Linked DNA regions of Homo sapiens: region 1 is linked to region 2. Evidence: fine-mapped expression QTL. Tissue or cell type: putamen. Region 2 holds a variant in brackets; the other region holds the start of a gene. All regions are shown on one strand. Distances are between the middles of the regions.

Region 1 (8,097 bases), 710 kb after region 2:
AAACATTTATTAAGGGGAAAAACAGCTGATTGTTAACAGCATAAACCAATTAGTTTTACTCAGACATCATGGTTTCCCTTAGTCAGGGGATGTAGTGATAGCGATAATCACAATAGGCAAAATCATGTAAATATTTACGACGTCTCCAGCACTGGGGCCTGAACTCAAGGATTACTTTGAAAGACGAACTTATCAGTACTATTAAAAGGATACCAAAGGTTAGTGCAGCATATAGAATCTTAAACAATAAAGGCTTATTCACATTTAAGCATTGCAACAGGCACAAAGAAAAAGAGTGAGCAAGAAAAGAATCCTTGATATTACTGGCCAGCAAAAAGGGAAAAGAGCATATGCCTTCCTTACCGCCCCAGCTTTCCCTCTGGTGGTACCCAGGCAACAGAATCCAACATCATGACCTTGAAAGGCAGAGGCGTAGTCATCCAACTTTTCAAAGTCCACCACTTCTTGATTCTAGGCAAGGACACAGTTGTATGTAGTTTCATGTTATTTAAACAACAGACCAAAAACCCCCTCTAGATTTAAAGACTAAGTTACAGAACATTACTGACAGGCCTGTCCACTTAACATCAAATTTTACAAATTCCTTTTCTCCAACCAAAAAGCAATGAACCTCAGTTGAAAATCAACAACACACACATATGTCCACAGTCTATATAACTGGACTAGGGGTGATCCAGATTTCTGAAGTCAGGTTCGATTATAATCTCTCTCTGGAAAAATAAAAGACCTGTGTGTAGCTAACCAGGAAGGAGACCACTGAGGTATGATGTGAGGGCAAGAGATGGCGTTTGGCATCTTAAAGAAGACCTAGCTGCAAATCTTGGGCTTGCTACACTCACTAGGCATGTAGTTACGGGCAAATTATTCATCATACACTACAGCTTTTTTTTTTCAGCTGTAAAATGGGGGTGATAATCTTTCCTTCAGTCCAATCCATGAACCATTTGCATTATAATTAGTCAGGGAGTGCTTAATAAAAAGGCATATTCCTACATCCCACACCAATAGTTCTGAATCAGAATCTGCACTTTTAACAAGCACCCACCTTAATTCTCATGCACACAGAAGTTTACGAACCTCCATCTAACCTTATCAGTTTGCTGTATAACTTAAAAAAGAAAGCATGATAAATTCCTATCATCCAAGAACTCCGATAAAATGTTGGTTTCCATCCTTACTGTCAACTCTGAAAAGAATTTTTCTGGCACTGCCTATGACACTAAAGAAAAATAGGGTTTCACTGTTAATCCCAGCACTTTGGGAGGCTGAGGTGGGTGGATCACGAGGTCAGGAGATCGAGACCATCCTGGCTAACATGGTGAAACCCCGTCTCTACTAAAAATGCAAAAAAAAAATTAGCCGGTTGTGGTGGTAGGCACCTGTAGTTGCAGCTACTCGGGAGGCTGAGGCAGGAGAATGGCGTGAACCCAGGAAGCGGAGCTTGCAGTGAGCTGAGATCGCACCACTGCACTCCAGACTGGGCGACAGAGTGAGACTCCATCTCAAAAAAAAAAAAAAAAAAAAGAAAAGAAAAGAAAAGAAAAAGAAAAATAGGGTTTCACAAAGTACCTAGTCAAACAGATGTGCCACCAAAACTCGACACTCAAAACACAGATTTCAATTTGTTTCTTTTCTTTTTTTTTTTTTTTTTTTGAGACAGAGTCTCGCTCTGTCACCCAGGCTGGAGTGCAGTGGCACAATTTCTGCTCACTGCAACCTCCATCTCCTGGGTTCAAGTGATTCTCGCACCTCCGCCTCCTGAGTAGCTGAGATTACAGGCGTGCACCACCACGCCCAGCTAATTTCTGTATTTTTAGTAGAGACAGGGTTTCACCATGTTGGCCAGGCTGGTCTGGAACTCTTGACCTCAAGAGATCCCCTGCCTCGGACTCCCAAAGCTCTGGGATTACAGGCATGAGCCACCACGCCCAGCCTTCAGTTTCAGCTTCTAATTACCATGAATATCTGACACAGCCCATGAAACCGGTGAGAACACATCTGCCTCAGCCTGAGGAAAGATGTCTGTTTTAAATAAACAAGACTTGATGGACCAAAGGCATTCACACCATGACCTGAACACAGACCTGCGAGAATCAAGAACATTTATTTGCAAGATGGCTTGTTATTTGAAATGTTCTTTCTATGAAACCTGTGGGGCCAAATTCTGTAGCTGTGGTGTCTTGAGATCACACTATGTTAATTTGTTGCAGTTCACAGATAATTCCCTTTAAATAAAGAACAGAATCTCCAAGAAACTCAGGCTTCTGATATTTAGGGGGTCATGACAAGACAGAAGTCTGGTATATCATTCCTATAATCATAAAAGTGTAACTTAGGCTGGGCGCGGTGGCTCACGCCTGTAATCGCAGCACTTTGGGAGGCTGAAGCGGGAGCATCATCTGAGGTCAAGAGTTCGAGACCAGCCTGGCCAACATGGTGAAACCTTGTCTCGTCTCTACTAAAAATACAAAAGTTAGCCAGGAGTGGTGACGCACGCCTGTAGTTCCAGTTACTCGGGAGGCTGAGGCAGAAGAATCGCTTGAACCTGAAAGGCAGAGGTTGCACTGAGCCGAGATCGTGCCACTGCACTCCAGCCTGGGGGACAGAGTGAGACTCCGTCTCAGAAAAAAAAAAAAAAAAACCTTTAACTTAGAGTGAAGGGAATATCCGATTTACAGACACAAGCCTGGGAAGTCAGGCAGGGCAAATTCTTGTAAGTGAATAATCCCACCTTTCACTGCCATAGACCTATCTCACTCTGCAAAGCAGTTTCAGAATCCCTGACAATATTAGTGTGAAGTGCGCAGGTTGACAAAATCAGCAAAGTGGCTGAGAAAATTCTCAAGGTCACCAGGGCTGCCTCTAGAATACAGCTTGTATGACCCTGAAAACAGTGCTCTTCTGTCTCACCAGCCCCCACCCCCATTACAACCCAGACCCAGCTTTATAGGGTTGCAGATGGAGAGAAGGGCTTTGCCCAAGACCACACAATGAGCGGGAGGGAGGCACACCTGGGCTACAATCCAGGAGTCAGACTTCTGGGAGGGACTCTCACAGACCAATCTTGGCCAAGTTTTGATGGCCTCTCACTACCCCCACCACTGGCAGGGCAGTATTCAGCCTTTAGGCATGAAATATGTTCACCTCGCAGAATCCTGGGGGTCCATTTGAGTCCCAGCTGAAATACCCACCACATTTTTATAAGCTTCCTCGTCGAAGGTGAGCTTCCTCCGGCCAATGAGCGTGACTTTGGAAAACAGGCCCTGCTCCAGGATTTCCTTTAAGAGCACTCTGCCGGTTTCTCCGCTGGCGCCCAAAATAAAGACGGATTTATTCTGCATCCTGAAGTCTTCCCGAAGCTTCGACAGGGCTTCTGTTTCGGCCATGCTGGGGAAATAACATCGACAGATGCCGGTCTTAGGGTGTCAGGGGACTGCCAGTCCTTATCCCGAGGAACAAGGGCTGTTTATCTGTTAGGGAGGAGGATATTGTTCTCCGCAGTCCGGGCTCTGGGGAAAGTGCTGAGTCACGTGCGGGGCGCGGCTCCCCGGCCATCGCCCGCACCTGAGCCAGCAGACCCATCGGAAGGGGCCCGAGCTGGAGGGTGCGCCCAGGTGCCACAAGCTGCTGGCATCACTGGGCATACCCCACGGTATCCCCGGCCCGGCCAGGAGACCTGGCCCAGCTCGGTCCCATACGCGGAGGGGTTACCTGGGGCCAGCCCCCGGCCCCGGGTCCTCACGACGCAGCAGGAGCAGGGCGGCCGCCAGAGCAGCCGCCGCCGCCGCGCTCAGCGCCGCAGGCCCGGCCATCAGAGCATCCCACCTTCCCTGGTCGGACCGGGGGGGTTGGAGGCGACGGAGACAGCGCCTACCCGGCTTGGTCTTCCGGGTGGCCTCGCGGCGACGCTGCCTCGCCCCGCCCACAGGGGCGGGACCTGGAGACGAACTCCTGGCACCCTCACAGGCGCGGGGAAGGTGACCCCGAGAGCACGTGCGCGGAGCCGCGACCCTTCCTAAGTTTGGAATCTGCAAGACCCTCTTCCCGCGTTTTCCCTCACCTGCTGGGCTCAGCTCACCCAGGCGCCAGCTAGTAGACTTGCCAGACTTGATCTTCAATGGTCCCCCCAGCTGGAATGTCAATTGTATATTGGCCATCATCTCAAATTCACCAAGTCAAAAACTTAACCCTGCCTACCCAACCACCCCAAACAGGAATAAAACAAACCTATTCCTAGCCTCTCTTGGGTGTCACTGTCCCTACATAAACATACACACACACACGCACACACACACACACCTCCTTCTACCCTGTCAAGTCAGAAATCAGGATTCCTTTGATTCCTTTCTTTTCTAGCCTTTCCACACTACAGACTTATCAAGTCCTGTTATCCCATCTGCCTTACAAATATTTCTCCCATGTAATTCAAGCTCGCATCATATCTCCCCAGAATAAATGGTCTACCTGCCCAGGTCCTGGCCTAATTCATCACCTAGATGGTTGAACCCGGGTGACCTTCCACACCTGTGATTCAGTCTTCCTAGCCCAGATCAGTGGTTTGGGACACAGGTATCTACACTGGGCCTGTCCTGGATCTTGGAAGTCCTGAACAGAGGTTAGAATGACAAGCAGAAATCTGAATAATTTCAGATTGTTCAGGTTTTGTTGGGAACATTGGTCATTTGGGGGCCCCACCTCCCATCTAGAAGCCAATGAAACACATTGCCTCTTCCATCTCCATGGGAGTTATTATATGTAGGCTTTGCCTAGGCTCAGCAAGCCAGAGGCTCACGCATAGGTTTTCAGTTTTGGAGGAGTAATGAAAAGATGCAGTGAAGGCCTGAGATATATGTGGGTTGGTTGGGGCAAGGGTATAGGATTATGGCATCATATGATCCACCAGCCATCTGATGGTCTGATCTTGTCTTAAATTCCTGCCTGTTTTCAGAGACTGTTGTGAATACAGTACTTCCTGTTATTCTTCTGATAAATTCCTGTGCTGTATAAGCTTACCAGATATATTCTGTTGTTTGCAATAAAAAAGCTTGATTAATATAGAGCAGTGTGGTTCATTCCCCACTGGCCTGTCACAGTGCCTGGACTCTTCCCTTTGAGTTCCTAAAGGTTTTCTACAAGAATGCAATGTTAAACCTTGTCAGCAAACACTGTCCTAGTAATTCATTTATCAAATCTGTCACAGAAATTATTCATTGTACCCTGTCTATTCTTCCCCTTTGTTTAAAATTGTGGCATAATTAATATACAATAAAATGTACAGAACCTAAAGGTTCTGTTCCATGATTTTAGGAGATTGTATATACACCTAAATAACCACCACCAAAAACAAGATATAGAGCATGTCTGCCATCCCTGAAAGTGCCTTCATTCCCTTCTTGCAATCTCTCCCCACTCCAGAGGTAATCACTTTCTGGTCACTATCAACATAGATTAGTTTTGCCTGTTGTAGAATTCTATTTAAGAGTACAGCATGTACTCTTTTGTGTCCCAGGTTTTTGGCTTAACACATATTTTAGTATTTATTCTTGTTTGTAGGCCTGCATTATGATTTCTATGGGCCCTAAGCACTTCATGAGCCCCTTCATTTTATGTACACACACTATATAATCAAAAATTATGTCTTATGACTATGTTGCTATAAAGATGAATATGACAAACTATTTATATAATCAAAAATTATGTCTTATGACTATGTTGCTATAAAGATGAATATGACAATTTCTTTCACCTAAAACATTTTCTTCCACCTAAAAGTTTATTTTCACAGGCCCCAGAACTGTGCCTACTGTGCCAAATGAGTAAATCAGCCCTGGTTGTTTCATGTATCAGGAATTCATTCCTTTTTATTGCTGAGTAGCCTTCCAGTATTCCAGTATGAATATCCCACAACATGTTTAAATATTCTCCTGTTGATGGACATTTGGTTTGTTTCTACCTTTTGGCTAATTATGAATAAGGCTCCTATGAACATTATTGGACCAGTCTTTCTGCAGTAACATGTTTTCATTACTCTTGGACATATATATACACACACACACACACACATATAATGTTTTATATATATATATAATGTGTATATATATATAAAATGTGTATATATATAATGTGTGTATATATAATGTGTATATATAATGTGTATATATATAATGTGTGTGTATATATAATGTGTGTATATATATAAAATGTGTATATATATATATAAAATGTGTATATATATATAAGATGTGTGTGTGTGTGTGTATATATATATATATATATATATATATATATATATATATATATATAATATAATGACCCTGCAGGCAATCAGACCTTTTGGTTGTCTTCCCTTGTCCCCTAAAAATTGCTGTTATTCTGTTCTTTTTCAAGGTGCACTGATTTCATATTGTTCAAACACACGTTTTACAATCAATTTGTACAGTTAATACAGTTATCATAGTGGTCCTGAGGTGACGTATATCCTCAGCTTACGAAGATAACAGGATTAAGAGATTAAAGTAAAGACAGGCATAAGAAATTATAAAAGTATTATTTGGGAACCGATAAGTGTCCATGAAATCTTCACAATTTATGTTCCTCTGCCGGAGCTCCAGGCAGTCCCTCCATTCGGGGTCCCTGACTTCCCACAACACACTTGCAAGCTAGCACGAGCACGTGACAGTGATTTAGCCAACGAGAAGCAAGCAGAGGTAATATGTGCACATTTGAATCACATCTTTATAAGGAAGTTACCTTCTTTCCTTTCACTTTCCCTTTCCCTTCACTTTCCCTTTCCCCCTTTGCTTAGGCCAGAATGTGAATGTACTGGTAAACCAGCTCTGACCATGAGGAGAAAGACACTCTCTAGAGGATAGCAGGGCAAGGAGCCCTTGGATGACTTCATAGAACAGAGCCGCCTGCCCACCCTGGACTGCCGGCACACCTCTGGGGAGTGAGAGAAAAATCAACTTCTGTCATGTTGGAGCCACTGTAATTTTGTTACAGCAGCTTAGCCAGCATTTTGCCTAATGTAAGATTCTTTTAGTCAATCTTGTCAATGGATATTTACTGATTATCTAATGCAAGCCAGATACTGTGCTAGGCACAATAGATTTTTCCAAGGTGAATCAGGGACACCAGCTAAATTCACTCTCATCTTGAAGGCAAGTCATAAATACTTGGGAAGCTAAATAAAGTTAAGCAACATTATAAAACATCCCCCAAACTTTCACAGGGTGGCACATGCTGAAGGCCAAATGAGCATACAGAAATAGAAGGAAACTCAGAGAAAAACAAGTCCATGCCTTTCCTTCTCTGACAGCTGGAACCATGTCATCCAAGTGCTGAGATAATGTGACAAGACCTAGGCTCCTAGAGCAACCGGACCACAAAAATTCAGGGCAAAGGGGAAGGGGAAAGCATAGGGAAGGAGGGAAAGGGGACATAAAGAAACGGAGCTGGCATGGAAAGATCCTTGGCCAGAGACCTGCCTGCCACGTTCAGGTTTGCCTTTGATGAAGTCTCTTCATATATCTTGGCCTCCATTTCCCTATCTGTAAGATGGGAACTGTTTCATTACATTCGCTTTGCTCCAAGGAACAAACTGACTCATGGCGAGTAAAGATGGTGAATATTGTAATATTGTAAGGCTATAAATCATGTATAAGAGAGACAGAATCTCAGAGAAATCTCAAAACAGGATCTGCTGTAGGATGGGGCCTTAGGGAGACTGGAACTGTATTTAGGTCAGATTTAGAGTCCTCAGGATCAGGGATCCATGCATCTTCACTTCAGAGCTATATTTTTAGTTATACCTTCATTAAGACTCTGTTTCACGTGTTTGAAGCCCCAAACTCAAAATGTTTTGAGGAAAAAAAAAAAGGAAATGTCCTGGCTCATGCAACTAAAGAATCAGTGTATATAATAGTCTTGGCATGACCAGAATCAGCCAGTCAGCCAATGGGGCCAGGACCCAGTCCCTCTGCCAACCATGGCTCTATTTCCCTTCACGTCGGCCTTACTCTCAGACCCTGCAAGATGACCCAAAGGCTGTGCTCTTGCTCATACTCTTCATTGTCT
Region 2 (8,106 bases):
ACACCTCCAATTAGGCCCTACCTCCAACACTGGGGATCAAATTTCAACATGAGTTTTCAGGGCACAAGCATCCAAATTATAGCAACATGAATAAACCTTTGCTCACTCATCAAATACAGCTCCGCTGGCTAGAGATAACGTATTCTCTTACCTCCACTGCCTGGCTCTGTGAGTCTGAGAAGGATTTTTGTCCTAGGAAACTGAGAGAGTTTAACTTCCTTCTTTAACCAAATTCAGCCAATGAAAAGCCATAATTCCTAACACATGTACTATTTCCAGGTCACTTTCTCCATCAGCCTTGCCTCCACCACTGTGTGTGAAATAACCACAGATCCCAACAACGTCCCAAACCTTGTTTACAGTTACAGGCTCTAGTGGATGAAAGTGAGGGGCCAATGAAGAGGAACTGAGGGGAAACCCTGACTCCATCCACCTAGAATGTGGTATCCGTGTTACACAGGGTCAGCCCCATTTCTGGTTGATGTGGAATCTCATTCATCCTAAACACTGAAGGCGTTGAGCCTGCTTCCAATCCTTTTCTATTAACTGTGCCAATCACATACAGAGAATAAAAGACCGTTTCCACAGCTGTTTTTCAATCCAACTCAATAAAACTTCCCTCAGACTCTGGAAAACTGTTTTAGTCATCCTTAGTTAACAGTTAAAATGTCCAGTTATGTATGTGTTTGTATGTGTTTATAAAAATTTGCTCAGAATCAATAAAATTCCAAGAGATTCATAGTTAGAGGTTCTAATAGATTCCAACAATTATTCCTACTGTTCTAAGACCAGGTTTATCTCCTGACCATGCTCAATAACTATACTTCTTCTGAACTCTGTACCCCATGACCGATTATAGAAAAATAAAAGGAGAAAATTGCTGGAAATTTACATTCTTATGAATTCAAGAGTAAAGTGAGTTGAAAACACTGTAGAGCTGAGATCTTGTCAAAGACTGATCTTAGGCCAGGTCTGGTGGCTCACGCCTGTAATCCCAGCACTTTAGGAGGATCACTTGAGCATAGGTGTTTGAGACAAGCCTAAGCAAACATAATGGAACCCCATGTCTCTGCAAGAAAACAATTAAAAATTATCCAGGCTGAGGTGGGAGAATCACTTGAGCCCAGGAGTTCAAGGCAGTAGTGAGACATTATTGTACCATTGTAGTGTATCACTGCACTCCAGCCTGGGTGACAGAGTGAGACCCTGTCTCAAAAAACAAACAAACAAACAAAGACTGATCTGAGAATGAACCACTCATGGTTACCTCAAGCATGAAGCTCCTGCCTCTTCCTTGTGATATTATAGTAAAAACAGGCATGTGTAAATAAAGAGTATTCAGAGTGTAGCAATATATGTACTTCTTATCAACCCACCTTTAAGGAAGATACATGGAGGTATGAAGAAGGGTCTGTGCAACAAACAAGGGATAGATCACAACACAGATTGTCTTTAATTGCAGATTTAAAAGGTACTAAATTCCGATATTCAGGAGTTTCTTGGGTGTAGTATACCTATTGTTGCTCCTGCTGAATTTGGCTATGTTGAATTTCATAAATAATCTGAAAGTCTAAATATTTTATGCCTCTTGCCATTTCCCTAATCTCTGAATAAAAATGAGCCCTACACAGGAAAGAGGGAAGTGAGCCCACAGGTGTCACTATCCATCTAGTCGGTCAAATGAAACTGACATAATCCTAGACTATTGAATTAGTTCTCTACCCATGCAAAATTAATTTTTAAAATCTGTTAATTCAACCTCAGAGAATTCTCTGAATTTCTCTCTACATCTTAGCCTCACACATCCGTACAGACTTCATTCATTGACACTACTGAAAATCAGATCTCTTTGTTTCCCAATGGGAGTATATAAGAGCCTCCTGCTAGTCTTTCTCCAGGGGTTCTCAGGCTTGACTGCACATCAGAATTATCCTGAAACCTTTTTTAAAAAAAGTTGCTGTATGGATGAACTTTGTGGTATATAAATTATATCTAAGTAAGTCTGCTTTAAAAAAAAAACACATGTGTAAATTCCACCCAAGGCTAATTAAATCAGTATCTCTGGAGGACTGAACCTAGCATTATAATTTTTTTAAACATCACAAATGATTCTAGAGAGCAGTTAGAGTTATGAATCACTACTCTAGTCTCATACATCAGCAGCATCCAAACCTGGATTACCAGAATTGCCTGTGAAACTCTTTGAAATGTAGAAACCTCTATATTATATATAATACAGTTTCTACAACCTCTGCCTACCACAGCCCCCAACTTCTGACTCATTAGATCTGAGTTACTGTTAAAAAAATGTTTTAATTAAATTTAACAAATACCACCTAGATGATTCTGCTGATTATCAGCTGGGTACCACAGCATTACAACAGGCTGTCCATCTGAGAATTCTGCTGCCTCTCAAATGTTAAAGTGTGTACAAATGATCCAGGAGTCTCGTTAATATGCAGAATCTGATTCAGTAGGTCTGGGAGGGTACTCAGATTATGTATTTTTAATAGAATCCCAGTTTATGCTGATGTTACTGGTCCCAGAACCACATCTTGAGTCGCAAGAATCTTATTCTCTTAGAAATGTAATTTGACACGAGAACTCATCCTCAACCAATAAGGCTTAAAGACTCTGACTTTTCCAGCCTTCCTCTAGTTTTCCAGTATATAATTCCAATTTTTAAAAAATTTCTGACTACTTGACATTCAACACCTATTGGAATGAGGTAGTTTCCTATATTCTTTAGCTTAAATCTTTTTTGTTGTTGTTGTTTGCCTAAAAGAAGCCTCTTTAAAACTACCTCCATTCTCTTTGTACATTTCTAAACAGATAATTGAAAAATTTATTCATTTTCTATTTATAGCACTCGAATTAATTGGTTGAATCTAGCAACCGAAGTAACGTTTAGAAATATATTACTAAAATGTAAAATAATGAAACAACTCAACTACTTTTAATGTTTTCATTTTACTTCCTTCAAATCTCATTGCAAATGCTACTTCCTCCAGGAAGCCTTCCCTGACTGTGCTTGTTCATAATAACATTTGGTTCTGTGAGCTTGTATTACCTTCAGACCCCACCAAGTAGTCTTTGATCACATACAGCTGTGATGCCATACATGGGCTTTAAGCATCAAGGTCTTGCCCTACCCATGAAGACATGCAGATTCAAAGGTCTGGCATTTCTTTGGCTCAACACTAAGCCATTACACAAGGACTCAACTTGAAAATCAACTCATTCGTTAGATAAGTTGTACTTGCTGACGTCCATATATATCCAACCATAGATTCCCAAAATTGTCAGACCACAATGGACCCAAAATTGGTGTATACCTGTATTTTTCCTTCTTCCATTCAGCAAACTGACCCAAGCCATCCTGGAACGTGTACCCTCTGATTTTTTCTTTAAAATCTCCAGGCACTGAGACTCTAGATGGAT[C/T]CCAAGTAATCTACTCAAAGATGACCCATGATGGTTACCAAAGATTATTTACAAAATGCTAGAGCTGATGAAAGTTTGTCATCTGCCTCCAAGGTAATCAGATCAAACAGACTCAACATAATTTCCAGGTTTTGAGAGGCTCTATTCCAAGACATCTTCTACCAAATTGACGAGACACCTACAATGCCAGCAACAGAGAAAAAGGAGGGAGGTGGTCTAGGAGAGGGTTCAGGGATCTTGCTATTATAAACGATGGGGAAATGAAGGAAGAAAGAGCAAGCTAGATTAAAAGGTCAGGGACACATTTCTGCGTGTTGTGTGTTCGAGCAGGAAGCAGAACACATGTTAATGAAATATGGGCTACAGCTGTATTGCTGACTAAAATGTACACATATGGCTAATGGCACATATTCTGAATAATCAACAGAAAAAGAAATGTTTTGCTTCTAAGACAACAAAATTAGGGCATGTTATTCCTTACTGATACTGCCTGAGGCAGCCAAGTCTCATTATAGCTTTGAAGCATACGTTCTTCACTTCTTTTTCAGTTCCTCTTTACTGATTTCTCTGGCATGAACAGTAGTTTTGCTTCTCTGTATAAATCTTTGCCAAGCTTTATATGCTGGGTTTTGTTACAACTTAACCACCTATCTTTAGTCTGTCATGTCTTATTTCTCCTATCCCTATAAAGAATTGTTACTGTGCTATATTCCTCATAGAAAATGCCAAGAACTTGCAGCATGAAGAATGCTCTTATACAATGAACTATTGATGTTTAAAATGAAAATGGAATTCAAGACTGAGTTCTGCAGCTGGGGAGAAAAAATAACTTATCTGAGAATTGTAAATAAAACCCAGAGATCACCTTATACAGGACAATAATAGTGAAAGAACTGTGTGGTGTGTAGCTTCCATATTTCAACTTGGATTGTTCTTTCCTTCAAATAATAATAGAGTAATTTATAAGCACTCAGCAATTCTATTTCGGGCCATTGCGCTTGTGCTTAATAATACCCACATTTATTGCTTTGATTATTATATGCCATTTGGCTATTAGCAACATAAGCTACCCAAAAGTTCACCTGCCACATTAGAAACTTGAATGGCTTGCACAACAAAGCTAAACAAGTTAATAGACCAGGTCTTGATAAATATATCTTAGTTGCTAGTTTAAATTTATTCTCTTCTGCATATATTGTTGACAAGGCAACCTAATCCCCATGATAATGAGAAAATTGTGGCTTCCAAATTTTTGCTTCTCATGGGCTTCTGCTACCAAATTGGGCAGCATAATGAAGACCCTGATCATTGTTGTGAGACAAAGTGAGTCATCAGAGATCAAAGAAACTAAGCCTGAAGGAAGGTAAATACATTCACTCAAAGATACTCTCATTATTTAAAGGAAGGAAATAGAAATGCTTCCTGGAGTGATCATCTCATTAAGACACCTATTCAGCCAAAAGGACTCAAAGAACTTTCCATCCTCTCCCCTCTTAGAGCCGAGCTTTGATTCCTGATGTCTGCATCCATGAACCACCTGCTGCTTCCAGGAGCCACTCAACAGTCTGGAAACACAGCTTGCAAGAGAGGGAGACTGGAAGTCAGATTATTCTCAAAGTTTGGCCTTGTGAAATAAGACATGGCCAGAGACTGTTTTGTCCAAAGCTACACTGATGATATGAAAAGGGCATTGAAGTTTAGGAGGCTGCCTTCGGAAATGTCATTTTAAACATATCCAGTCTTCCAGCCGCAAAATATTCTTTGTAGTTTTTCAAAATTTATTTCAAAAGATGTAGTAACTTAATGATAATGATACAACAACTACCATTATTATTATTGCCATCTTTACTATTTATTGAGAGGCCAATATGTGCCAGACATGTTGCCAACTGCTTAAGATGCATTATCCATTAATTTTCTTTTGTAATATTTACTGAGTGTATGCTATGGGCACTGGAGTTACTGCAATGTTTAAACCAGAGGTGATCCCTTCTCCAAAGAGAGTATGCAATTCTGGCTTATTAATTTATTTATCATCACAACAAACTTACTAGTGAGGTGTTACTATTTATATTTTGCAAATAATAAAACTGAGGCCCCAAATTTGCCCAAGATTACACAGCGAATGGGGCAGGATTTAAAACCAAGTCACCCTGACTGCAAAACTACACTCTTAACCTCATAGCTATGGTGATGTTCTGAGATTCTGAGGCAAACCTGGACTATATGAAGTAGGAGGGCTAAAAACAAGGTTAGCACTTAAAATGCTTAGCGTCTTTACAATGGGAGATGTGTTTGTCAGTTTTTAAGTAAGCATGATAAGTAGTGCTCCCTGTTGTCAGAATAAGGGAGAGAAAAAGTATTTTTCTGATATTTTCGATCTGGCAAGAGGGATAGTTGACCTGGCTAAGGTCACTCATACTTAAAGATGCTTTTTAAGGCATCTTTAGGCTCAAATCTCAGACAATGATTCTCAGATTTTATGAGACGCTAACTTGAATGTCATGGTTGCTCTGCAACTCATCATGAACTATTGAAACATTATACTCAAATAATACTGTGCTGAATGGTATATGCTCGGCTCACACAAGACTCTGGAAAAGGCAAGAAATAGCAGGTGCCAAAATTAAGAAAAAGCATGGATGCAAACCTAGAAAATAAGCACACTCTCTGTATTAATGTATTTTTTTGCAAATTAGGAAAAATATTGTTCAATTTCAGTAGCAGAATCCTCATGGAGCCCCTGGAACAGCAATAAGATTTACTGCTATTGAATCAGCCCCAACATCTGGTTTTCTAATTCCTTTTAGCTCTTACTTTAGTCTCTGAGAAGCCAACCTTATAATACCATTTGGAGAGTATAAAAAACTCTAGATTAAAGTTCATCCAGGATCCTCAAACACCAAGTCTACTAATTTTAAAACCTTCATTTCTTTATAAGGGCAGTTTAACTCCTGAAATTTTCTACCTCTATTAAATGAGAAAACCTCCAAGGAGACAAGATATGTATAGATACTAGTGTACATCCAGCTGCCTTTGAGTTTTCTTCTCATTTAATTTAGTACAAGGCTCCACATTGAAATCACTGTCAGCATATGTTTGGCATTAGGCTACTTCAAAAAAAAAAACAGCCTTGGAGTGACTCAGTAAGTAGGTTAGTCGAGGTGTGAGATGAGCAAACCCGTCATTTCAGGCAAGGAAACTATTTTGTCCCTCCAATATACGTTATCACATGGTTCCTGACAGCATCATTATTATCTATGAGCGTCTATCTATTTGAAAGAAGGGAAGGAATGAAAGTAAGGATTTATAGCGCACTTACTGTGTGTTGGACATTGTGTCCACACATTTCAACTATTTAAAGCTTAAAGAAGCTCAGAGAGGTTACATGGCTTTCCCAAACAGGATCACACAGATAGCAAGTGGTGAAATTGACAGGGGAGCCTGGCCTCCTGCCTGCAAAATCCATATTTTTCTAGTCTACACCACCGGCCCTTAATCAGTGATTCCCACCCTACAGTATCACAATCATTTCAGTCAAGAAAGATACTAAAATTCTACAAATAATACTTCAAACCAAAAATCTAGTTAATTTTAAACATAATTTTAAATATATATGTCACACAATGCTTTGTATGGAAGAGTAGCTTTAATTAGATGACATCAGGTCAAACAGCTTCACAAAAGGGTGGGACTTACTGGACTAAATGCATAGATTTTACTCCCCATGTTGCTTCCCTTCCATTCCTCCTCCCTCCAGAGTGCCAGTCCCTCTATTAAGTCAGGTGCCAGCCATCAGTAGTGTCCAAAGACTCTACTTATTGATGTCTTTAAGTGGTGTTGACAACTTATAGAAGCTCTCACTGTAAATGGATGATACTGTGAGTAACAATTTTCCATGCAATAAACCATTCAAAAGAGTTGAAGAACAAACATGTCTGTTTTCTTTCTTTTTTATTTTTTCTAACTTTTATGTTAAGTTCAAGGGTACATGTGCAGGACGTGCAGCTTTGTTACATAGGTAAATGTGTGTCCTGGTGGTTTGCTGCACAGATCATCCCATCACCAAGGTATTAAGCCCTGTATCCATTAGCTATTCTTCCTGTGTCCAAATTCTAAGGCCTTCTGTTCGTGCCAAATGGACACAGACATTCACTACTTTCAAATCCAAATTACAAGAGCCAAATGGAGTGTTTCCACAAGAAAGAAAATTCTGAATGAAAAGCAGTGTCTGGTTGTATTCTGTAGGATTTGAGTCCAAAGAAATGTGGACTCCAAAGGAATGTGTACATTTATGTATACACCCATGTTTAGAGCTAATCCATTCCCTTTGTCACTGCCTTAATTTAGGGGCTCCCCAGGCCCCGAAAGCCTCATTTATTTAATACATATTAAGCACTCTCCAAGGCCCTGAAGATTTCCTTCAGGCAAACTTTAGGTATTCAAAAGGTAGTTCTGCTCAATTAATTCAGCCCCAAGTATTTATTCAATGCACCTCTAGCCACACTGCACAGCTATTGGAGGCACTTGGGATCCTGAATCTAATCGTCAATAGCAAACAATCTGCATTATCGGTGGACTGGCCTTTTTGCTCAGCAGCCCCGCCCACTGGCTGCACCCATTTATCTCTGCGTACAAATGTGTTTTCAAGTATTATGTGTGTTT

The links. PIP is the estimated chance that this variant, and not a neighbour inherited with it, causes the effect.
Region 1: it holds the start of HTATIP2, and the variant in region 2 is fine-mapped to the expression of HTATIP2 in putamen (GTEx, PIP above 0.99).

Annotation. Positions count from the first base shown.
Region 1 is chr11:20,359,548-20,367,644 of GRCh38, reverse strand. It overlaps HTATIP2 (HIV-1 Tat interactive protein 2), which reads right to left and starts at 3,931. Exons shown (of 5, transcript NM_001098522.2): 1 at 3,213-3,931; 2 at 364-471. The coding sequence starts at 3,407. RefSeq lists enhancers at 1-398, 6,693-6,912 and silencers at 3,582-3,724, 3,511-3,930.
Region 2 is chr11:21,068,591-21,076,696 of GRCh38, reverse strand. All of the region lies in intron 12 of NELL1 (neural EGFL like 1), which reads right to left. Among named protein-coding and RNA genes, the nearest start is that of NELL1-AS1, 190 kb to the left of the region's middle. The variant C/T (reference allele first, on the strand shown) is at 3,442.